7 linked regions of the Homo sapiens genome follow. The protein of the gene in region 3 interacts with the protein of the main gene of each other region in a pairwise test. Each region holds a gene or a part of one and is shown on either strand. Other genes may lie near its edges.

Region 1 (3,500 bases), on a different chromosome or scaffold from region 3:
TGTGGTGGCTCACGCCTGTAATCCCAGCACTTTGGGAGGGTGAGGTGGGTGGATCGCCTGAGGTCAGGAGTTCGAGACCAGCCTGGCCAACAGAGTGAAACCCTGTCTCTATCAGAAATACCAAACATTAGCCGGGCGTGGTGGCAGGCGCCTGTAATCCCAGCTACTCGGGAGGCCGAGGCAGGAGTATCACTTGAACCCAGGAGGTGGAGGTTGCAGTGAGCCGAGATCGTGCCATTGTACTCCAGCCTGGGCAACAAGAGCGAAACTCCATCTCAAAAATAAATAAATAAATAAATAAATAAATAAATAAATAAATAACTGCCTTGGTCTCTAAATTTTGCTGATAAATTTGAGCTCTCGGTTCTCTAGGAAGAGACACCAGCTTGGACACTGTCAGGAACCACATTCAAATGGAAGAAAATGTGACAGAAAACAAGGCTCCAACCCAGGCACGTCTCTGCTGTCCTCTTCCCAATAATGTCCACCTCAAAACCCACAGGGAGAAGGAAGGGCCCCTTGTCTAACACAGCAGTCCTCAGGATCTCACTGACTACCTTGCAGGTGCCCTTCCCTTAGGTGCCAAGAGTTGGCACAGCCTAGCAATGCACGTCGTGCAGGACCTGAGGTGTCTCTGAAGGTGGGGCTAGATCTGACAGACAGATGGGATATTTCTGAGAAGCGAATCCCACTACAACGGTTTGTGTTCAAAAATTTCAATTAGGTTAGAGAACAAAACAGCACATATAACTGCGGCTCAAGATAAGATGCCCTGGCCCCGCACACCACAGACAAAGCCTTGAGGGGCCCATGCTGCAGGGATTGGTCCTTGGCCAGAACTTTGAAACTGAACAGAGGCAAGGAGCGTCTTTAAGGGACAGAGACAGGACCGAGCACCCCTACCACTCACTGCGAATCTTGGAAGTGCCCACGAAATGAGATGTTTTCCACCCAGTCACTTCTGCAAAGGTTTAAACCTGTCAGATCTGGTGCAGGTGAGGATGGAAACGGCCCCTCCGCACCCTGGCAGGTGTGTGACTCAGAGCAGCCCTCTGGACAGATGATCAGGGTCCTCAGAACAGAACCCTCAGACTCAACAATCCCACTGCTAGGAACTGGCTTTCCTAAGAAGCAATCTCACACAAGTGCACAAAGACAAATTTAAAAGGATTGAGGCAGCAATGCTTATAGCAGCAGAGCATTAGAAACAGACGGGAGTCGGCTAAATGATCAAACGTTCACAAAACGCAGCACCAAGCAGCTGTGAAAAGGATGAGACCGCTTCCTATGTGCAGCCTGATACACTGTGAGATTAAAAAGCAAATTGTGCTTATGGCCTGATCCCGTGTTCGTAACATACAAAGTCACATCCACACGAGAGCATGCAGGAAACCTGGAAGGGAGCCCATAAAACTCGCCAGTGTGAGGACCAGCACTGAGCAGCCGGAGACTCATCTTCACTTACACTTAAGAGCCTCCCTCATGTGCTTTCAGAGGTGAGCTCTCGAGGGGACGAAAGTCATGTGTGATCCGTTCCCCATCAAGACCCCAGGCCTTCTGCAGAATATGCATGCAGAACAGGCCACAGGTTTTTGCCTCTTAGAAGCTGCGGAATGAGTTACAGGGAACAGGGCCTCCAGCTTCAGAACCCAGAAACCTGGCCAAGGCATCTGAAGCTGGTCCAGGGGCCACAAGGAGAGCCCCGTCCCTGGCTAGCAGGGGTGCCATCCCCACTGCAGGGCCAGCCTAGTGCCCGCTCACCTTGGTGAACTTGGTGAACCGTTGCTCTAACACCCACCGCCAACTGCAGGGCCAGCGTGGTGCCACTCACCTTGGTGAATCGCTGCTCTAACACTTCATGCTCCCACTGCAGGTCTTTCAGCTCTTTCTCCCTGACTTTCAAACGGGCTTTTGTGCACTGGAGGAAAAACAGGGAGTAGGGGACAGAAAGTATTCAAGATTCACAGTCATCCAAGTAACACGGGCTCCTGGGAGATGGCAAGGCCAAAAATAATCGCCAGAAAGACCTGGTTCCAGGACACAAGCAGCTGAGTCTCACCAAGGCCGGCCGGTAGCACGTGGTGAAGATGAGGGCCTTGTCTCCAAAACACCCCCAGACTTTACTTTCCCCAGGAGAACACGAGGCAGAGAAAGGAGAAATGCAGGCCTCCCCGTCTCCCTTCCTGCCCTAAGGGCCAAGCCCCTCCCTGTGATGCTCCTCCCTCCTGAGCCTAGGCAAGCTCATGCCAAGGAGGGAGAGGAATCCAGCGGGAAACTCACAAGCAGGATCTGCTTGTCCCTCTCGTAGTTTGCGAGCTGTTTCTGCATCTCGCTCATCTCCTCCCGAGCCTTCTGGAGAGGGTCTGCCAGGCGCTTGTTCTGCCCAGACACCTCTGCCATCTCCCTCTCCAGGTGGTCCTCCTTCTTCCGCATGTCCTCCATCTGCTCCTGCAGGCACAAGCACAGGCCCGGCAGGGGCTCAGCAGGCAGAACCAAAGGGGCTGTGGCCTGCATGGTGAGAGCTGGGTGCTCTCCTGCCCATCACCAGCTGCTGCCAGCCTCAGGCATGCTGGCACCTAGACGTCTTCTATGTATAAACAGTATTTCTGCAGCTTCAACTTATTCTGAGTTTTCTGGGAATGCAGCTTCCATGCAGACTGAAGGACTATACTTTGTTCAAGATTCCACCAAGGGCCGTTGTCTACTGTAGAAAATCCTGTCACTGCCAGCATGCAGTGACGATGACACCTATCCACCTGTCGCAGGCAGTGACTATGACACCTATCCACTCCAGCCACATCACGGCCCTCACTGCGGTTCCATCTGAGCTTTTACAAACCAGAACACACTTCATTACTTCCCCCTCTGCACTACGGTGAGGGCAATATCCTGACTGCTTTTAACAATAGGTAGAGATAGGTTACGTTATTTAGGAATTTCAGTTAAGGATATGAGAGGGGCATTGTCAAACAATCTTATAAAAAGTACTGGGTGTGTTGGGGTGGAGAGCTGGGGTCTGGATCCCCAGGACTCTGCAGCCCACATTCTAGGACAGGCAGAGTGTGCCTCCCCAGCCCAGCCCACGCACAGCACCTTGAGGGAGTTGATGAGGGCCAGGTTGTTGAGGGTGATGTCGTTGTAGTAGTTCTTAATGTCGGTGAAGGCCTCCTCGTGGCGCTGCATCAGCGTGTGGATCTGGCCATTCTTCCTCTCCTCCACTTCGTGGAGCTCAGTCTTTCTCCGCAAGTCGAGTTCGTCCCTCAGCATCTTCATCTTCTTATCATACTTGGCCTCAATTTCTGAAAGGCAGCAGCAAACAGCAGCTTAGCAGAGGAAGACGTGGTGCCCCTACGGCTACAGAACATGGAGCCTGTAAACGGGCCCAAAACGCCCACTGTGGTCAGAACAGCCTTGCAGGCAAAAGCTCTGCAAGAGAAGAACAAAGGGGTTTAGACTGAGTTTTTCTGCTGATGCTCACACTCAGCACACACACCACTGTC
Region 2 (3,500 bases), on a different chromosome or scaffold from region 3:
GGTGTTAAGAGCATTATAGGCCGGGCGCGGTGCCTCGTGCCTGTAATCCCAGCACTTTGGGAGGCTGAGGTGGGCGGATCACTTGAGGTCAGGAGTTCAAGACCAGCCTGGCTAACATAGTAAACCCCCGTCTCTACTAAAAATACAAAAATTAGCTGGGTGTGCTGGCGGGTACCTGTAATCCCAGCCTCCTGCTGGCGGGCGCCCGTAATCCCGGCCACTCAGGAGGCTGAAGCAGGAGAATCGCTTGAGCTGGGGAGGCAGAGGTTGCAATGAGCCAAGATCGTGCCACTGCACTCCAGCCTGGGTGACAGAGCAAGACTCCGTTTCAAATAAATAAATAGATTAATAAATAAAGTTGGGTAAACCTTTATTCAAATCCCAACCCCAGCATTTACTGAGTATCTAGCTTTGACTTTACTGTGCCTCAGTTTCCTCAATAACAGGAACTATAATTTTGAGAGGGTGATGTGAATTTTGCATCTCATACGATTACATAGGATTAAATGAGATAAAGTATGTTCACAGCCTGGTACATAATTGGTGGTCAGTAAATTATTATTATCACTTTTACTTTTTTCTTTTTTTGTTTTGTTTTGATTTTTTGTTTTTGAGAGAGAGTCTTGCTCTGTTGCCCAGGCTGGAGTGCAGTGGCACGATGTCAGCTCACTGTAGCCCTCCGCCTCCCAGGTTCAAGCCATTCTCCTGCCTCAGCCTCTTGAGTAACTGGGATTGCAGGTGCGCACCATCACACCCGGCTGATTTTTGTATTTTTAGCAGAGACGGGATTTCACCATATTGGCCAGGCTGGTCTCGATCTTTTATTTCTTAAATAAATAATCTATAAGGGCTGTAACAGTTTAAAGTTTATAATTTGGGCCAGGCAAGGTGACTCACGCCTGTAATCCCAGCACTTTGGGAGGCCCAGGTGGGTGGATCACCTGAGGTCAGGAGTTTGAGACCAGCCTGGCCAACATGGTGAAACCCCGTCTCTGCTAAAAATAGAAAAATTAGCCCGGTGTGGTGCCACATGCCTGTAATCCCAGCTACTTGGGAGGCTGAGGCAGGAGAATCGCTTTAACCCAGGAGGCAGAGGTTGCAGTGAGCTGAGATCGCGCCATTGCACTCCAGCCTGGGTAACAAGAGCAAAACTCGGTCTCAAAAACAAAAAGTTTATAATTTGGTTTGCTTTCATTATGCTTGCTTTCCTTATGGATGAATAAATTAATTCAGATTCATAGTCCTATTTTGGTGTCAAAAGATTTAACTATAGGTCAGGCATGAGACTGTCTCAAAAAAAAAGAACTATAGAAGGTAAATCATTTCAAAGAAATGTGGAAATTTGCATATAATCACATATTTATCAAGATATACAGTTTTTAGTATGTAGTACATTGTTTTCAAAATAATATATCTTAATTAGTTCTGTATAACTTTCCAATTGATTAAAGATCTGGTGCCATTGTATTATTCAGTACCAGAAATGAGCTGTATTTTTGCTTAATAACTTCTTTCATGTTTTACTTACAGGCATTTTTTACTGTCTACAGAAACTTATTGTAATTCATTTTTCCTCACTCCAGTAGTAAGAATTATACCAAGTAAGTGGACTGTATTGAAACTAATTAATTTTGTAACAGTTAATGAGAATTTAATTGGATAGTGGTTGCTGCATGTGTTGTGTTCTCAGTGGAACGTTGAATGTGACCTCATAAATAGGAAAATGATTTTTTTCTTGAAAATTATTTATATTCTGATCTGTGTGATGAGTACTTTTTTCTGGAAGCCAGGAGGCCGATACATATTTGTGACAATATTTTTTTAAAGGAAATGTCTCCGCCTTTAGCTTGAAAACTACCTAAAAATACTTCCAATGGTAGGAAATGTGCCTATAAAACTCCTAGTATGGTGCCATAGGCACAGTGTTTCTTTTTTTATATATACACAAAATAAAATGACTTAAACATGTGGTTTATTGTAATTATCCAGTTCTCACAATTTATATCAACATTTGAAAAAGAATTTTTTAACCTCCGTAAGAAAGAAAACAGAAATCAGTTTCTGCCTTGAAACCTGACTGGAAAACAATCTGAAATACAAACAGAGGCATCATTTAACACTTTTCTTATACCATAGATTTTCAGGTGGCTCACATATTTCATATTGCCAATAAATTCTTCAGTTAGAATTTTTATAACGTCATTAACAGTTGTTATTTGTGACATATTTGTTAATTTTTTCTCGTTTTTTAGATTGAAAAGATATGAATGAGTATCCTAAAAAAAGAAAAAGGAAGACTCTACACCCTTCTCGTTATTCAGGTCAGTGTATAATTATTTTAAAGTTGGGTATGGATTAATTCCCACAAAATTATATTCTCATCCATTTTCTCCTAAGTGATCAGATAAGACTTAAATATCTGGGTCAATATTTAGGTAAAACAACGGTTTAAATACATTATCTGAATATATATTCCTTATTGTCTACCATGTGCTAGGCACACATAAGAACTTTACAGACATTATATTATTCCTCACAGCTCTATGGGTTATAAATATTTAAAATTAGATAGCCAAGGTTATTTACTTATATAACATAATTGGGATTTGCATGTCTGATACCTAAGCTGTGCTTAAGACCCAATAATGACAACCTTGGTAGAAAATATTTTACATTATTGGGGAAAAAAGACTTTATCCTCTTTATTACTTTAGGAAATGTAAACTTTCATGCTGAATGTGTAATTTTTTTTTTTTTTTTTTTGAGACAGAGTCTCACTCTCTAGCCCAGGCTGGAGTGCCATGGTGTGATGTCAGCTCACTGCAACCTCTGCTTTCTGGGTTCAAGTGATTCTCCTGCCTCAGCCTCCCAAGTAGCTGGGATTACAGGCGTGTACCGCCACACCTGGCTAATTTTTTGTAGTGTTAAAGTAGAGATGGGGTTTCACCATGCTGCCCAGGCTGGATGACTGTGTAATTTTAGATCCTTTCATTGAGGTTGGCTCTGCTGTGTTGGCAGTATAAGAAAAGGGGTCTTTGTGGCCATCTCTAATACACCTCGCATACATTTACTTGGGACCATCTCAGTCTTACCTATTAGTCTACCCAGCCTACACATTCTTCATATCTGAAGAAATTAACCCTAGTATACTGCTTACTGGCCCTTCCTAGACAACACTTGAAATGACTATATTCAGAAGCCCTAAGTGGTCCTTACCATTTCCCCTATGTAACAACCTTTCTCTGCATGACATGGCACACCTTCCTGGTGTTTATTTCACTGTTTTGTGCAGTTAATACAGTGTTTATCATATATTTTTATTTTGTGTGATTCTGAGTATAAAACAAATGTATCCTTGTATATTTCAAAGTTGTTATGTTTTAGAGTATGTAATTTGTGGTTCTTTCAAAGTCCTATGTCAATATTGGATCTGAAATATAAAAGCTTTAAAAGTTGAAAATGTATAATATTTTCATTACAGATACTATAATTAACATTAA
Region 3 (3,197 bases):
CACGTCATTCACTTGGCTCCTTTTTGTTGTTGTTGTTCCCTGTGTAATCAGGTATTTGCTTTGGGATAAAGACCATTCCATCACATAGTCCAGCTTATCCTGCTGTGAATTCTAATCATGTGTATGCAGAACTTTGATCGGTAGCCATGGAAATATAGATGATAGCACTAATTTGGCATCTTAAGGTTCCTGAAGGAATAGGTGAGAAGAGGGGCAAAGTCAGGCAAGAGAACACCCTGATGAAATACAAATAGCTTCACTCAGCAGCAGAGCATGGCAAGAATTGTTATGCGCAAGCGGAAGGCAAACTGATGGTTTGCCTTGGAGGTGGTTTTCCCCATGTCAGAAGAATTGGAATCTTAGGTGTGTGCTCCTTACAGAAGACGTGTGTGATGCCTATTTATACTCACTAAGCAGATTCTATGATTTAAAAACATATACTAGTGTTCTCCCTGAAATCTTAGCTGCCAAGGGTTGTGAAACTCAATTGTTTTAGTCATAAGTAGTTACCACAGAGCGGTATGATACATTTTTGTAAAAAAGATTTGAGAGTGCATGGCAGAGATAGGTGTGTAATCTCAGGACAGAATATCGTTATTTTCCAGATGGAAACAAATCTTTTCAATTAGACCCCTCAGGATTTCAGTTTCAAACTGCTTATGGATGCTTAAGCCAGTAAAACAATGAGCTGCTTAGCTTAGCTTATGGCAAATGGCTTAAAAACTTGTGGTATTTTTAATTGGCTTTTTATTTATATAAAGGCAATACCCTTATCTAACAAATGTTTATTCAGTGCCTACTATACATACTGTTCTAGGCTCTGGAAATACAGTAGCGAAGAAGCCAGAAAAAATCCCACCCTCCTGAGATCGAATTGTGGTAAGGGAAGACAGGCAAGAAACAAAATAAATTCATAAAAAAAAATTTTCAACGATGCTAAGTGCTTTGGAGAAAATAAAGCAGGCAAGTGGGGTAAGTGGACGTGTGGGGCAACCTGAAGGACTTTGGCTTGGACTCTGTGAACTAGGAAGCCCCTGCAGGGTTCTGAACAACAGAGCAACACGATCTGACTGTATGTGAACTGGATCAGTCTGGGGAATGCTGCTAAGAAACTGGAGAGGAGCAATAAGAGAAACTCAGGGACCAGAGAGAAGACACTGGAATAATTCAGATGAGAGGTGGTGGCTGGACCCAGTGGCAGCAAGGAAGGTGGTGAGAAGGGATCGGGCTCCAGACATACTTTGAATATAGAACCATCAAGCTTTGACATGGATAGGATATGGGTTGTGACAGGAAGAAAAAAGCCAAGGATAATTCCGGGTTTTCTGTGTACACTGTTTGAGGGGAAAAAAAAAAAATCACACGATTCTTGTATCAAATAATAGCAGTCCTCTACCTCACTCTTTCCAAATCCTAATTCCAGCTCTCCACAGGCAACCCTTTTCAAACGTTTTAAGTGTTTCCTCTGGCATTTATTGCCACATTTCTAAATACTATACTGACAGTGCTTGGTTTTTCCACCAGATATTAGTGATATCTCCTGACTTCCTACTATGAAGCAGAGGATATCTCACTCTTACACCACTGTCCACTGGCCCCACATATGCACGCACACGCCTCAAAAGCACTTTCTCCCACATCCTCCCCAAACCACATTTTTAGTGAAATCAATATTCAGGGTTTTCCTTATAAAGGCTACACAAATATCGTTCAAAGCAAACCCACATAACATATTATGATGATGACCTCTCATAAGTTTTTTTCCCCTTTTTGTTTTGTTTTTCTAATCCATTCTCCAACATGAGACTACCCTCACATGCCCAAACATCACTCAGGATCTGATCAGACATGCCAGGGAATATAAGCTCTTCCATTTCTTCCTGGAGTCCTTCAACCATCTACTCTAACCTGGACCCACTTGTACTGCTACCATCCTGGAGCATGACATCCCTGCAGCTCCAGCCTGGGGATTCCTCTCGCCTTGCTCTGTGGTGGATCTCAGCTCTTGGATCTTTTTCTTTGGATGGAGGACATCCTCAGGTAGAGTCAAGACTGCCCACATTCCAATCCCAATTCTACCACTGACTAGCCATGTGACCTTGAGAACTCACTTCTCTACGCCTCTTCCCCACTTACAAAACAGGGAAATGTGAGTGTCCATCTCATATTGTGGCTGTAAAGTACTGAAGGGAAGCACAGTAAGCACTACTTAAGTGTCAGCTATGACGATAATGACTACAGAGAATGTGTGCATGGGAGATGTCATTAGCCTATATTTACCCTTCACTTGATGGTTCAGAAAGGAAGAGAATTCTGAGTTGGACAATATTTCCCTAGCTATTGCAAAGGTACTGCTCTACTGTCTTCTACCTTCTAGTGCTATCAGTGAGAAGTATGACAGTATTTTAATTCCTGCACCTTTGTAAGCGACCTTTTCTCTGAAGTCTTTGAAATCTTCTCTTTAGCTTTGGCCTTCCAACATGCATTCTTTTGTGCCTTGATGTGAACTCTTCCTATTCATTTGCGCTGTATTAAGTGAATTCTTTTCATTCTACAAACTCACGTCCTTCAGGTCTGGGACGTTTTCTTACATTAATTCTTTATTTCCTATCTTCCCTTTTCTGTTGTAATGGCTATAAACGTTATAGATTGACTCTTATTTTCTTACCTTTCCTGCTTTTCATATTTCAACTTTATCTTCTAACCCACTAATGTAATTACTAAATTTTTGCTGATTTAAATTTTTGCTAATTTTTAAGAGTTCATTTTGATTCTCAAACTTTTTTATAGCCTAATGTTCTTATTTCATGGCTACAACGTTACCTAAGAATTTTTTTGTTTGTTTTGTTTTCAGACCCGTCTGTCACCCAGGCTGGAGTGCAGTGGCACGATCCTAGCTCACTGCAGCCTCAAACTCCTGGGCTCAAGCAATCCTCCTACCTCAGCCTCCTGAATAGGCATGCACCACCACGTCCAGCTAAATTTTTTATTTTTTGTAGAGAAGGGATCTATTTTGCCCAGGCTGGTCTAGAACTCCCGGTCTCAAGCACCCCTCCCACCTCAGCCTCCTAAAGTGGTGGGATTACAGGCATGAGCCACCACGCTTGGCCTCTAAGGATATTAATTATCATTCTCAATGAAATTTTTTTCTGTTCTCTATAATTCTGTTTCTATGAAGGTCTTTTTTTCTGTGTGTT
Region 4 (3,500 bases), on a different chromosome or scaffold from region 3:
ACAGCAGTGTGGTGAGACAATGAAGGAAACAGTTAATGTGAAAACTGTATGTGGCTATTACACATCAGCAGGGACCTATGGATTAGATTCTGTAAAGAAAAAGTGAGTTGCCTTTCTTGTTTTTCTTCCTATCCCACTTTTAGGAATTTGGTTGCTTTAGTTTCTTAAGAGAATGTATAGCTATAAGAAAGAAAGAATTAAGGAAAAATAGGATAGGGGGATGGAATTTTATTAAATAAAAAGCCCCTTTTAACTTTTGGACTAATTAGTAAATTCCTCAAAAGTGTCGTCTTTGTAAGTGACCATAGGTGGGTTATATACATGCTTATAAAAACCATGGTCACCTTGGTCGGGTGTGGTGGCTAACACCTGTAATCCCAGTGGTTTGGGAGGCCAAGGCAGAAAGATCACTTGGGCCCAGGAGATTAAGACCAGCCTGAGCAATGTAGGGAGACCCCATCTCTACAAAAAATTTTAAAAATTAGCCAGGCATGGTGGCATGCACCTGTGGTCCCCACTATTCTGGAGGCTGAGGTCAGAGGATTCTTTGAGCCCAGGAGGTTCAAGACTGCAATGAGCCGTGATCATGCCACTGCACTTTATAGTATATTTTCTATTAAAATTGTTTAAGAAGTAGGCCTGATAGACTGACAGTCCTTCTAACTCTTGAGAGTTGCAGTACCTGTTTTGAGATTTTAAAGAAGGTTATACTAGTATGCAGACCCCTTAATAAACTATTTAACACAAACTCAAAATGAAGTTTTAAAACTGGAAATGCTCTCGTTAATATAAAGGAAATATTCTCTTAATAATATCCACTGACAAAAATAATACTAAATTTCCTATTGTTAAGCTAAAAGTTTTGAGCATGTTCTGGCAAGATTAATCTGATTTTATTTTAACTATAAGTCCTACTTAATAAATTGTAAATACATGGCATATAATGTAATAATTATATATTTTAATTTCAGGTGCCTTGAATGGCTTCTAAACAATTTGATGACTCACCAGAATGTTGAACTTTTTAAAGAACTCAGGTATTTGAATTTCAAGTAACTTCATAATTAGTCATCCTAAAATATTGTTTATCATTTGTTAAAGTACATAACATTTTTGTAGAACACAAAAATATATTATGAAAAAGCAAACAATTTAATGAAAGGGCTTGACTACATCCATAAACTGAAGAAATGCTGTGCAAACTTATTTCTTTGTTGTGAATAATATAATGGATATTATGTCTACTGTTTTAACCGAAAAATGCATTACTGTTATAAGACTATAGAAAAGTTTCAGGTTTTGCCAGGCTGTTAGAGAATTTAAAAGTTATATTTTAAAAATCATCTTTTTTATTGAGAAATAAGTTTGAAGAAACTGTTTTGGCCTTTTTTTTTTTTTTTTTTTACCTTCAAAAACTTTTCATGTTGATCCGTTTTCTCACTAGGATGAATTCTCTGATGTGGAGTAACAAATGTGTGTCTCCTATAAATGTATATTTTTCCATCTCTGATTATTTCACACCTTGAATCCAAATCTGTAGTCCCAGCTACTCTGGAGGCTGAGGCAGGAGGATTGCTTAAGCCATAGAGGTCAAGGTTGCAGTGAGCTGTGATTGCGACACTGCTCTCCAGCCTCAGTGAGAGTGAGACAAGTTACCATGGTTCTTCACCGTCACCTCCTGGTACAAGGTCTTCTGAACCAGGTCAAGGTATTCCCACTCCTGATGAGAGAAGTCTGTGGCCATGTCCCTGAATGTTACAAATTCACAGGCCATGGTTTTAGACAAGCAAAAGCCAATCAGTCCTCAGGGTTTCTCTACCAGAAAAGCGATTTGGGAAAACCTAGACCTATAATCCCAGCACTTTGGGAGGCCAAGGTGGGAGGATTGCTTGAATCTAGGAGTTCGAGATCATCCTGGGCAACATAGTGACATCCCCTCTCTTTGAGAAAATATCAATCTTCCTTTAAAAAAAACCTGTTAGCGCCACACAGGGTCCCATGCAGGCTTCAGGCTGGGGCTGCAGAGGCTCCTGCAGTCAACTGCGCCGCCTTCGTCCTCAAGCGGGACCTGGTCAGACGCAGCACAGCGCAGAGCCAGAGGTCCTGGAGATGGAGCCAGAGGTCCAAGATTTCTCCATCACCTGTGGACTATGTAGTCCAAGCTGGAATAATAGGACCGCAGTCACCCGTGAGAAATGGATTCCAGGGTTCTAAAAACCTACAAGAAATATGGCGGTGACAATGAGGACTGCCCACCCTGCCCACCACCCAAGCTGCAGAGCAGCCTTTCTTTTTTAAAGAGATGGGGGCCTTGGTATGTTGCCCAGGCTAGACTCAAACTCCTGAGCTCAAGCAGTCCTCCTGCCTCAGCCTCCAAGTAGCAGGGATTATAGGCACATACCACTGCACCCAGCTTAGTTTGGCTTTTTGGATTAAGTACGCATATTATCCATTTATTCCTGCAGCAAGTACTTCCTGACTGTCCTTTATATGTAAAGATACTCTATTAGGGGCTGTGAAGAATGCAGAGATGATTTTGTCATGGTCTCTTGCTGTCAAAGAGCTTATTTGTAGTAATGGGACTAAGATATTTGTGATGGGTCTGAGAAAATCTGGCTAGCAGTTAACTTTTGAAGGCTGGTTGGCATTACAGTCATTTTCTGGCTTGCATTTCCCTGACAGCAGTGCTTCTGAGACAAGGATACAAATGTGTCCGAGAGTATGTGACATTCTGATGGAAATGTACAAAACCAAAGTCAAACATTACATAGCTTCCCAGAATGTGAATTTTACTGATTTTTTTTTTTTTTTTGGTGGGGAGGAGGTGGGGAAGAGGTAAATATTTTTATGTTTAAATACATTATGGAATAGAGGGAATTCAAATTTCCTTGAACTCTCAAGATACAATTTATAGAAATGTTACTTTTTATGGTTAGACCACCTCCTAGATTATGGGGTTTTTTTCCTTTCTTTTGCCTTTACGAGATAATTTGGTAGAGAAGTGTGAGAGACTTTCATCACCTGGTGATGTCAAGGCATAAATAAATCACCGTAGAATGTTTGATTTGAAAATCGTTAGAAACACTTTAATACAGTCAACCCTGCTTATCCATGGGTTCTCCATTTGTGGATTCTACCAACTGCCGATTGAAAAGATTTGGGGGAAAAACTATAAAAAATAATAACAAAAAAACCCAATGTAGTATGACAACTATTGCATAACATTTACATTGTATTAGGTACTGTAAGAACACCTAGAGATGATTTAAAGTATATGAGAGGATGTGCATAGGTTACATGCAAATACTATGCCATTTTATATAAGGGACTTGAGCATAGAGGATTTTGGTATTTGTAGGAGGTTCTGAAACCAATCCCCCACAGATACAGGGGGATGACTCTAATTTCTCACTGAACTTTTTGAAAAAGGAGCAGGATCCTCTTAAAAACCCACGTGCTCTCTTGGCTTTTTATGGCTCAAAGGAAAGAAAGAACAAAGG
Region 5 (3,500 bases), on a different chromosome or scaffold from region 3:
GCTAAACGCCGGGTGCGGTGGCTCACACCTGTAATCCCAGTACTTTGGGAGGCCAAGGTGGGCGGATCACGAGGTCAGGAGATCGAGACCATCCTGGCCAACATGGTGAAACCCCATCTCTACTAAAAATACATACCTGGGTGTGGTGGTGTATGCCTGTAGTCCCAGCTACTCGGGAGGCTAAGGCAGGAGAATCGCTTGAACCTGGGAGGCAGAGGTTGCAGTGAGGTTGCAGTGAGATCAGGCCACTGCACTCCAGCCTGGGTGACAGAGCAAGACTCCATCTCAAAAAAATAAAAAGATAAACGCTAAAGCTTTGGTGTGGGTTAGACTGCCATGGGAAAAGTATAGAGAGAGAACCAAGGTCAGAACTTGGAGATGTGTTGCATTTCAGGTAGAAGTTGAACAGAGGCCACAGAAGGATCCAGAGAAGGAGCATTTAGTGGAGGTAAGGAAAGAGTTGGTAGAATGTAGTATCACCAGAGTCAAACACAAGTGAGTCAGATGCTGCAGAGTCAAAGAGACCAGAGAGGAAGCCACTGGGTTTTGCAACAGGTATCTACCAATCATCCTCCAGATGGCCAGTTTCTGTAGATATAGAAGATCACAAAGAGTAAGTGATTGATGAGGAAAGGCAGGCAAAGAGGACAATGGTGAAGATAAAGAAGATCAGATAGCAGCTCAAGAGCATAACATGAAGAAAAGTTATTCTGCTGCTGCCCTGTTTTTAGAATGGGAGGAACTGGACCATGATTAAAGATTATGGAAAAGAACTCAATCGAACTGGAGAAAAGAGAGAGTATAAGAGGAAGGGTTATCTTTAAAGATGAGGTTGGACATTTCTTCCTTTGGGACTAGCGGGAAGCAGAAGCTGAGTGAGTCTTCAGAAGACTGTTAAGGAGGCTGATTGGTAGATGGTCTGCGATTTTCCTTAGAAGAAAAAAGAGCAAGATGAATACATTCTAGAGATCTGCTATATAACATAGGGCTATAATGAACAACAGTATATTGTATGCTTAAAATTTGTTAAGAGGGTAGATCTCATGTTAAATGTTCTTACCTCAGTAAAAAGAAGAAGAAAGTAAGAGTTGAAGTTGAAGTGCTATGTAGGGGCTCAGGGCAGAGGTAGAGACTTGAGAGAAATTTTAAAATTAAAAATTAAAGTTAATACAAAATTTAATTTAAAAATCTAAAATTTAGAATTTAAATTTTTAGAGCTAGATGATGATGATGACAGTAGCTAACATTTGTTACATGCTCATGATATGTTGGGTAATATGCTAAGGACTTCACATGCATTATTTCCTTTAGTACAAACTATTACCCTATGATGGTGGTTACTGTTGTTATTCCCATTTTGAAGATAAGGAAACAAGCAGGGGAAGGTGGTGTACCATACTCAAGGTCAGACATCATCTTACTAGAGCTGGGATTAGATCCAGGCAGCAGCAGGCTGACTCCAAAACTTATAGTCTTAATCATTTTGATATAATCACAATAAATTTAAAGGCAATTTAGAAAGTTTCTTATAATTTTCAAAATACAGCACTGTAAAAATGATGGTTTTCTCTTTCTATATCTCCATGAATTTTTTGCTCATTTTTCAGATTGAGGTGTGGGCATGGGGAGGAGTGTGGGAATATAAGAAATAACCATAATTATATCCAATGACTTCAGGATCTCCATCCCTTTATGCTGTGCCTTGAGGACAGGTGTCAGCAACTTTTTAGATGTGATGTACCAAAGTATATTGATACATTCCTGCCTGGGGTACTGGAGGGACAGTTGCAGTTACCACCTGCAAGTCTCATGTATAGACCAAGCCACTGAATGCTGCCAAGTGGAGAAACTGAATCCATTAGTAGATGTGCTTTTAGAGACACGTGGAGAACATGGATATATTATACAAATAAGAGCAAGAGATGGTCAGGAGGAGAGAGAGGGAAAATGAAGGTGATTTCATGGCAGGGCAGGCTTCTCCTATCCTTTGAGAAAGAACCAATAACTCAAGAGTAATCATACAGTAAGTCATTATCAGCTAGATCAGAGAATGTTAAAGCTGGAATAAGCCTAGTAATTGTTTAAATCCGTTTAGTCCTTTTTGGAGTCACTTATCCTTTTAAAAGTCAGAAGCTACGGACTCAGCTACACTCCCTCACACACACACATTTTGCATATTATTTCAGGCAATTCCAGCATCCTCAGAAGATTAATCATGGGTCTTGAACAAGGAGTTCAAGTTAGGAATGCTGATCTAATTTAAGGCTCTCAGTTTAAAGATAAGGAAACAATATTATTACAAGTTAAAACTTAAGTAGTAAATAGCTGCTAGCAAAAAGACATCATCTTACTAGAGCGGAGATTACAATCCAGGCAGCAGCAGGCTGACTCCAAAACCCATAGTCTTAATCACTTTGCTATAATGTTTTGTTTGAAAAGACAAAGGCAAAAGAAAAGACAAAAGCAAGTATCTCTTAAAGTGTTTCTTCTTCCTCCAGTATTTTTCTTCGATGTGAGTTTTTTACTCGTTTGGTTGGATCTCTTTATGTAGAATTAATGTTTTTTAATGCTACAGGTAAATTCACTTCTTTTTTCTTCTGTTAATGAGCTCCAAATTAGTGAGGTTCACCAGGCTACTGATAGGCTGCTTGTTTATAAATCACACACCTTTTGGAGAGTTGCACACTCCCCTCCAAAACTTTCTTACCTCCTAAAATGATTTCTAAAGGTGACTTATCACCTCTCTTCTTCAAAACAGAGACCGGATGACTGAAGAGTCCAAAGTGGAAGCAGAATTGCATGCTGAACGCATAGAAGCTCTAAGAAAGCAGTTTCAAACCGAGAGAGAAACTACAAAGAAAGTGGCACAACGGGAAGTGGCTGAGGTATAGTCATGAGAAAAGTTTCTCTTTTGGTGAATGCCTCTTAGGATAAGCAGCTCAAGGATTTCAGAGAATGGCTACAGTTGTTCTTTGACTCCTCTCATCCCCCTTTGATCAGCAGGCCAGATGTAATTAAGACCTCTCTGTAAAGCAACACACAAGAAAAAAGTTTCTGACATAATTCTCTGCCCGACAAAGGTGTGCCTTGATGGGAGATTTTCCATCAGAGAGTGATAAGCAAGAGGGATAGAGGAATAAGGAGACTGCCATTTGATAGACAGAAGAGAAATCATCTGTCTTCTCAGTTCATTTAACTGGCATCTATTCTGCATCTACCATTTCCTGAGAGGCACAGAGAAAACAGTAGAAGATATGGTCCATGCCCCAGTGTGTGCCAAATGACCCTTGTTTGGGATCTCCACTCCGGAAATGAGATATATAGGGAAAACATCAGAGAACTTTCTTGGGTAGCAGAGGCTGTGTACAACTTTGAAGGAATTCAAAGTAAGAGAAAGTTTATTTTAGGCCATTTGGTTGATAGAAGAAGAGAGGCTTAATGAGAGTACAGGATTGAGACTAGCAGAAATGGCAGGGCTGGACACCTTATGAAACAGCACA
Region 6 (3,500 bases), on a different chromosome or scaffold from region 3:
AATTTTTATCCTTTTGAGATATTTTTAAAATGCCTCATACTCTAATCATCCTAAATAGTTTGCAAGGAATTTTGAGTAGTTGACCCTCTTCTGTCCCTACAATACCACAAATATGGTATTTGTGCTATTGTATTTATGGTATTATATGTATGGTATCATACTAATTTTACTAGTAAGAAAACTTAATAAGATAATAAATTTCTTGTCCAGAATTAGACAATGAGTAAATGGTGGGACCAGGATGAGATTCTAATAGATTTTCTACTGTAAAGAGTTACTCTGCTGTATAGATTTATGCAATAAATTACATTGATGTCTCGATATCCATATGCCTAAATATATGAGAGAAACATACATTTAAAAAATTTATATTACCACAGTGTTTCTCCTTTAAGTGTTACATTGCTAGACAAAGTGCTTTCTAATTACTTTGATTAATTTCACTTCTCACAAACCTTGTCAGATTAAATAAGTTGTCTACATTGGGGTAGATGAAGTTACCTGACTAAGCTTATCCAGAGAATAAATGGTGAAGTCACATTAGAATGCATAGCTCAGGACTATAATTTAGAGACAAAAAAGCTACTATTCACTTCTACTTACAATGTCCACAGAAAAATTATAGCAGACGAATATAATTTCATCTCATAATAATAAGCACTTAGATGTAATAAAACTGCAGAAAATAAATACATTTGATATTGCCTCTTTAAAACTTAAAGACATTAAAATAACAAAAACCAAAGGAGATATTAAAATTATCTTAAATCAGAATTTCTAGAGTAGGCTTCTGGTCATTGATAGTAATAAAAATCTCCTCATGTTGATATACCATGCAGCCTTGGTTGAGAACCATGGGAAGAGGGCAGAGGTTGACAAAACTTTAGTGTAAAGGACCACAAAGTAACTATTTTGGGCTTTACTACCTATATGGTCTCTCTCTCAACAGCTTAACTTACCCATTGTGTGTGAAGGCAGTTATAGGCAAAGTGTGAAGAAATGAGCGTGGCCATGTCCCAATACGATTTTATTTGTGGTATAGTTTGAATTTTATATAATTTAATGTTGAAAATGTTTTAATGTAAAATTTTAAAATATAAAATGATAAATTATATATATTTTTTCAATATAAAATTAAATTACTTTTTGCATTACTTTTTGGCAACTGCAAATGTTGCATAGATAGAGAGATAGAGAGATAGAGATAGAGAGATCCATATAGCATCTGTCTATTCCCTAGATAATTGAGTGAATGAATAAATGAAATATATCCAATCAAAATTGCCCATGAAATGATATTGTGTCTTCTCCACTGAGAATGTTTATCAGTTGAGAGTGGAGATTAATGTTCCCAAGAGCAGCAGTTCTTCACTTGACACATATATTTGAAAAATATGGTACATATGGCTGTAGAGATAGTTACATGAACCAAGAGGAAAAGTATATTTATCTACGGTTTGGCCTGATCTTAGGATTTTTGTATTTTTCTCATGTTTTCAAACAAATAGAATTTTCTTTTTAAAATTGTATCAGTGGACATATCCATGAACTTTTCTTAATGGGAGTCTGGTTGTGGGTGGCATTATCTTTTGGCAATTGCAAATGCTGCATGCTGCTTCTTTGTGTTTTCTGTGTGTAGCTAGAGAGATTGCAAGCTGAAAATACCTCGGAGTGGGACAAGAGGGAAATACTTGAAAGAGAAAAGCAGGGACTGGAGAGAGAAAATAGAAGGCTGAAGATCCAGGTGAAAGAAATGGAAGAGCTTTTGGATAAGAAAAATAGATTAAGTGCAAACTCTCAAAGTCCTGATTTCAAGATGTCACAAATTGATCTGCAAGAAAAAAACCAGGTATGGGTGCTCCTTGGAGCAAATTCTCACTGTCTAATCTCACTCTGATGCCTACGCAGAGTCTGTCTTCACTCGTACACGCCTCCACATTTGGATATTTCCTTTTGTGCCAGCTAATACCTGATACTCCTTGCTCTTTTGCCCACTAGGATGTAAAATAACGTTCATGCATCTGAAACAAAGTGTGTCAAATGTTAAAATATGACAAATCTTCAGACAGTTTCAAGATTTCCAAAAGGAAGAAGAAAAATGAAGTAAGAAATAGAACTTTCTGGTTTTTTGTTTCTTATTAAAGCTTTGTCTCAGTATTTTCTAAGCTAATGATCTTATTTCCAATAAAGATTTTTTCATTAATTCAAGCGACTATACAATAAGCATTTGCTGGTAGCTATGGTAAGTATCTGCATAAACATTTAAATTTAGCTGAAACTCACTGCTTTCTGGTTCTTTTTTGTCAGTTTCAGAACGATTATTTTTGAGCTAATGAAATGCATAATTTTTCAAATAATTTTTCCAGCCTGTGGTATAAATCTTAAAACCAGGATAACATTCAGAATTTAAATTTGGGAAATTTAATTTTGGATGTGTTTTATCCCCAAGCCAGTAGATATAGTTTATGCTATAGACGGACATTTTTTTGATAGTTTACAGATTTTTAAATGTGCTTTTAATGGCAGTCTTATAGTTTTAATGTGGGTTCGTGTCAATGTGCTGTAAATTATATTTACCTTGTTTCTATTTTTCAATTATATATAGCATCTTAATGCACAATTCTATTTCTCACTCAGTTTCTTTAACAGTTTTAAAAGGTGAATTTGATAAGTTCATAGTTTTGAGATATTTAAGTCATTCATACTCACATAAGCTCTAAAACCTAAATGGCCAGAAAAATTGAATTCCATATTATTTCATCATTCTTTCATGAATCTAGGGATTTATTGCAAATGCAAGATTAAATTGTATTAGTGTTTCATGACCTAGCAATGCAAATATCTAAAGTTAAATGTTATAGTCCGTGACCATAATTTTCTATTATATTGATTCATAAACTATCCATAATAATGTATTTGATTCTGACATATGTACACTGATAAATCTGTAGACATCTTATTTTGGAGATCTCTACTCTAAAAAGTGCAGAATTATCTCAATTATGGACTGTGGTTTGATTATAGAAATACTTTTTATTTGATTTATTCAAACAAGACAAACATTTATTCGTATTATTCTCTGTGTCAGTCACTGTTCTATATGCAGGTAATGAGAATATTAATCAATGAATCATTATCCCCACCCAGCATGGGCTTAGAGTCTATATAGGGAGTCAAACACACAAATTTTTATAAATAAAACATTATAGTGATTGCTAAGAATAAAGTGGAAGGGGACACAGATTAAGAAGCAATTGATTATATTTGATTTTGGCACCTTTCTAGTTGTATCAAAATGTATTAATATAAAGTATATCTTTCGGGAAAAATTGAGACCTGTTTGGAGCTGGCATTGGCGTAACCTGTCATCAGGGCACACCGAGTCCAGACCTGGTCTCTTTGACAATGTAGTTATTTGGGCTGGGACTAAGCAGAACTTGGAAACTGAGAGGATCCTCAAAGGTCTAAGTCAGTGGGTATGCTGATCACTTAGAAGACTG
Region 7 (3,500 bases), on a different chromosome or scaffold from region 3:
ACTTACTGTGCAAATGATAATCTGATCCGTGCTTCAATTTCTATCCATTCTTCCTTTATAATTCTTCCACATTGTAGCAGCTCCTTTGAAAGTCTCTCTGCTTTTGTCAAATTCTCTGCAGCTTCCTTAAATCTGAATTGTGTTCAGGAAATTTTCCACTTGGTTCTAGATTCTACACCCCATGTCCTGAACTTCCTTGGCTCCCATACTTCCAATCACACTTCCTAAGTCATCCATCAGCATCAGCTTTTTACTTGGCGTGTAAGTGTTACGTGAATAGTATTTCTATTTGTAAAAGTTAGAGGCAAAAGGATACTTTTGAAGGGAGAGTAAAGCTCTGCCCATGGTATGGAAAAGCTCAATGGAAAACTTGAAAACATCTGTATTCTCACTATAGGGAGGCACAATGGAGTTGGCGAGGATTTGTCTGGCTTTTTCTGCATGTTGTTTTGCTTGCAGTGACAGTCCTGTGGACAAAGAAAAAGAGGTCTCAGTTTCTCTATCATCTCAACTGGACAGGAATACAGTTCCTTATGGTCTGGGAATCTAACAAGGTCTCCTTCACATATTGTCAAATGACACATGGAGACGTATCTGGGCAGCATGAAACACTGCCATGACTGTAACAACCAAAGAAGTGTTTTATACCAAGTACCCAAGATAAATTTTCCCCCAAATGGCCTTTTTAGAAATAAACAAAATGAGCTGGAATTGAACAGCTTTGAAACCTCACCAATAGCAGAAGCAAAATATGTTACATATAATTATAAGAAACAAACTGAATACAAGAACTATAGCATTCTGAGCAGGAAATAAAATATTCATGAATTTTAATCCTGGCTGTGTAACTGCAATCTTAATGAAATACTAAAAATTCTGAATCTTCAGCTCACCCACCTATAATCATAATGTCAGAGAGTTATTTTTTTAACATAATACATATCTGATATCTACAAAAACTTACAAACACAATTCCAGTGAGGTAACAGATTAATGTGTGACAATTTCATCTTCCTATGTGGTAAGAGACTAATATGAAACAAAGTGGAGCAAAAAAAAATCACTACTAAGAAAGAATTCCCCAGTGTGTTCCAGTGTTCCTCCACGGGCTTGTTAATCTGTGGGAAGGGAGGACTGAGATCGCTAGCACGGCTTCAGGGCTTTGCACGTCCCTGTATTCCCATCCTCCTCCCCTACACCGACAACCACTTCCACTCACATACACACAGCCCCCATCTTATGTTCTTAGTTACACAAAATTGTATCTTAGATCTCTAAAAAAATCTGTCAAAATATGAAGTTAATTCTGTTCCTATGTCTATAAAACAGGAAGAATATATTTTCTAATGGAGAAAATCAAGGGTATGTGTTTCATGTGGGAATTCTTACACAAGATTGTCTTATTACATATTTTTAAAAAGCACAGACATGTATTAGTGCCACCTGTGCTTGTGATGTTACACAAAGCATGTTGGACTGTATTTTCAACTGTGTCGAGTCCCTGAAGGAACCTGAACTCAATTTACTGGAGGCAGCATAGGGTGAAGTTCAAGAACATTGGCTCTGAAGTCAGACTGCCCAGGATGGATCCCCTGCTCCACCACTTATTATAAAACGTTGGCCTCAGCTTTCTCAGCTGTAAACAGGGATATTAAAAATACCCACCTTTGAGGACTGTGGTGAGGACTGAATAAGGTTATGCATGGAAAACAACATGCCTGGCACCAAATGAGACTTTAATAAATGGTAGATACTACTTTTACTTTAAATTGAGAAAGAAGGACTGTCACGCAGAGAGGCAGCAGGCTGTATAAGAAAAGCATCGTCTGAAACCCCAGATGGCAGGACAAACTGGCATTGAAAACCTAGGTCTGAGTCTCAGATCAGCTACTTATTAACAGTGTGGTATGGGGAAAGCTGTTCTAACTCAGACTCATTGTTTTCCCTGAATCTACAAAATGGGGTGGGAGGGCAGAGTTTAAATTAGATAATCTCCAAGGTCCCTAAGAGCCTTTGATCTAATAGGTAGGACCAGTCTATAATCAGATTTGGCCAAATTTATTGGGTGGCAATAATGAATACGCTTGGTATAGAATATGCTTGGCATTTGGTGTTTTCCACTTCTATTATTTTCTTTATTCACTGGGCCAACCCTGGAAAGTTAGCATCACCATTACCATCATCATCACTTTTCAGCTGAAGAAGCTGAGCACAGAGATGCTCTTGTCCATCTTGTCTTAGGCTGCACAGTCAGTAAGTAGAAGCCATCATCATATCCTGGGTGTCTATTGTTTTTGCCTCCCCTGCACGCATTCTCCCCTCTGTTTCCCTTTTGGGATGCCTGGCTCCTGCACATCCAATCCATGAGATGTGGCGAAGGCCTGCTTCTCCTTCAGGATCCAATGAAGCCAAAAGAAAGGTTTAGCCAATCAGACTATTCCTTGCCTTTGGTATACAACCCAAGTTGTTCCAATTAGAACCCTTCCCAAATCCCGGGATTTTGGTGGAGGGACATTCTTTTCCTCCTGGGAATGCTTATAAGGGAAGTCTAAAGTTGCAGGCAGTCTTGTTGCCACCATGTGGGCAAAACCTGGCAAAGAATGGAGCAAATACCAAGAAAAACAGAGCCAAGCAGTGGGAGAGAGAAAAATTGAATCCTGGTCACATTGTTTGAACACTGGATATGGCTAAGTCTAAAAATTTTTTCCCTTGAATTTTTAAGTTGTATGAGCCAAAAACTTTTGTTTATGCCAATTTGGGTTAGTCTTTTTAAATTTTTTGGTTATTTACAGTCAAGAGATTCTCCAATAAAAGTGTGAATGGATCCCATTCTGGGCCCCTATTCCATACCTTGGGTTTTTTCCTACAAAGTCTTCTGGCCCAACAGATTAATTTTCTCCTAAGAACCTTACTTTTGAAATCATAAAAACAAAAACAAAAACAAAAAAACCAGAAAAGTTAAAATATTTTTTCCATTTTTCCCCTTTGAATGTTTACAGGTTATATACCTTATCAACTCTTTCTAAAAAGAAATGGCTTCTTGGTATTTAGAAAGGAGAATATTAAAAAACCTGATCCTTCTAATTAAGTGTGAATCAAATTTTGGGGAGAACAGCAGAAATCGACCAACTGATCCCCCTCAGTCTAAGGCGAGCTTACCTTTCAGCTGGAGGTAGCCTTGAGCCAGATTAACATGTGCCTCTGCTAGTTTCCAATGTGAGTCTCCATAGCAAATTCTTGTCAGTGCTACGCAACGCACAAGCTCATGGACGGCCTGTTTGTACTGTTAGGAAGAGAAAACAGGCTTACCAGTTATACAACTTAAGAGTCACAAAACACAAAATCAATGCGCTTTTATATCCCTTTGATAAATACTGAGTGACTACTATGTGCAAAACATTGTTCTAAGCACTTGAGATGTATCAGAGAACAAAACAGACAAAGATCTATTTGGGGTGGTAGCATGTACATCTGGTAAGATGAAACAGACAATAAACATA

The links.
Region 1: the proteins of PRPF18 (region 3) and DRC4 interact in binary tests that used the Homo sapiens proteins (3 or more experiments, as listed by UniProt).
Region 2: the proteins of PRPF18 (region 3) and ZNF639 interact in binary tests that used the Homo sapiens proteins (3 or more experiments, as listed by UniProt).
Region 4: the proteins of PRPF18 (region 3) and GMCL1 interact in binary tests that used the Homo sapiens proteins (3 or more experiments, as listed by UniProt).
Region 5: the proteins of PRPF18 (region 3) and CCDC150 interact in binary tests that used the Homo sapiens proteins (3 or more experiments, as listed by UniProt).
Region 6: the proteins of PRPF18 (region 3) and CCDC102B interact in binary tests that used the Homo sapiens proteins (3 or more experiments, as listed by UniProt).
Region 7: the proteins of PRPF18 (region 3) and TTC23 interact in binary tests that used the Homo sapiens proteins (3 or more experiments, as listed by UniProt).

The regions. Positions count from the first base shown.
Region 1 is NC_000016.10:90,036,180-90,039,679, reverse strand, and holds part of DRC4 (dynein regulatory complex subunit 4), read right to left. Parts: intron 3,300-3,500; coding exon 3,094-3,299; intron 2,449-3,093; coding exon 2,281-2,448; intron 1,919-2,280; coding exon 1,832-1,918; intron 1-1,831. UniProt on the Homo sapiens protein: Component of the nexin-dynein regulatory complex (N-DRC), a key regulator of ciliary/flagellar motility which maintains the alignment and integrity of the distal axoneme and regulates microtubule sliding in motile axonemes.
Region 2 is NC_000003.12:179,326,031-179,329,530, forward strand, and holds part of ZNF639 (zinc finger protein 639), read left to right. Parts: intron 1-934; exon of another isoform or gene 935-1,314; intron 1,315-1,530; 5' UTR 1,531-1,601; intron 1,602-2,252; 5' UTR 2,253-2,263; coding exon 2,264-2,321; intron 2,322-3,500. UniProt on the Homo sapiens protein: Binds DNA and may function as a transcriptional repressor.
Region 3 is NC_000010.11:13,624,965-13,628,161, reverse strand, and holds part of PRPF18 (pre-mRNA-splicing factor 18), read right to left. Parts: intron 1-3,197.
Region 4 is NC_000002.12:69,843,160-69,846,659, forward strand, and holds part of GMCL1 (germ cell-less protein-like 1), read left to right. Parts: coding exon 1-102; intron 103-971; coding exon 972-1,037; intron 1,038-1,425; exon of another isoform or gene 1,426-1,708; intron 1,709-3,500. UniProt on the Homo sapiens protein: Possible function in spermatogenesis. Enhances the degradation of MDM2 and increases the amount of p53 probably by modulating the nucleocytoplasmic transport.
Region 5 is NC_000002.12:196,723,215-196,726,714, forward strand, and holds part of CCDC150 (coiled-coil domain-containing protein 150), read left to right. Parts: intron 1-394; coding exon of another isoform or gene 395-398; exon of another isoform or gene 399-1,157; intron 1,158-2,758; coding exon 2,759-2,885; intron 2,886-3,500.
Region 6 is NC_000018.10:68,895,580-68,899,079, forward strand, and holds part of CCDC102B (coiled-coil domain-containing protein 102B), read left to right. Parts: intron 1-1,639; coding exon 1,640-1,849; intron 1,850-3,500. UniProt on the Homo sapiens protein: During interphase, forms fibers at the proximal ends of centrioles to maintain centrosome cohesion. During mitosis, dissociates from the centrosome following phosphorylation to allow centrosome separation. Contributes to CROCC/rootletin filament formation.
Region 7 is NC_000015.10:99,218,582-99,222,081, forward strand, and holds part of TTC23 (tetratricopeptide repeat protein 23), read right to left. Parts: intron 3,284-3,500; coding exon 3,160-3,283; intron 468-3,159; coding exon 317-467; intron 133-316; coding exon 7-132; intron 1-6. UniProt on the Homo sapiens protein: Participates positively in the ciliary Hedgehog (Hh) signaling.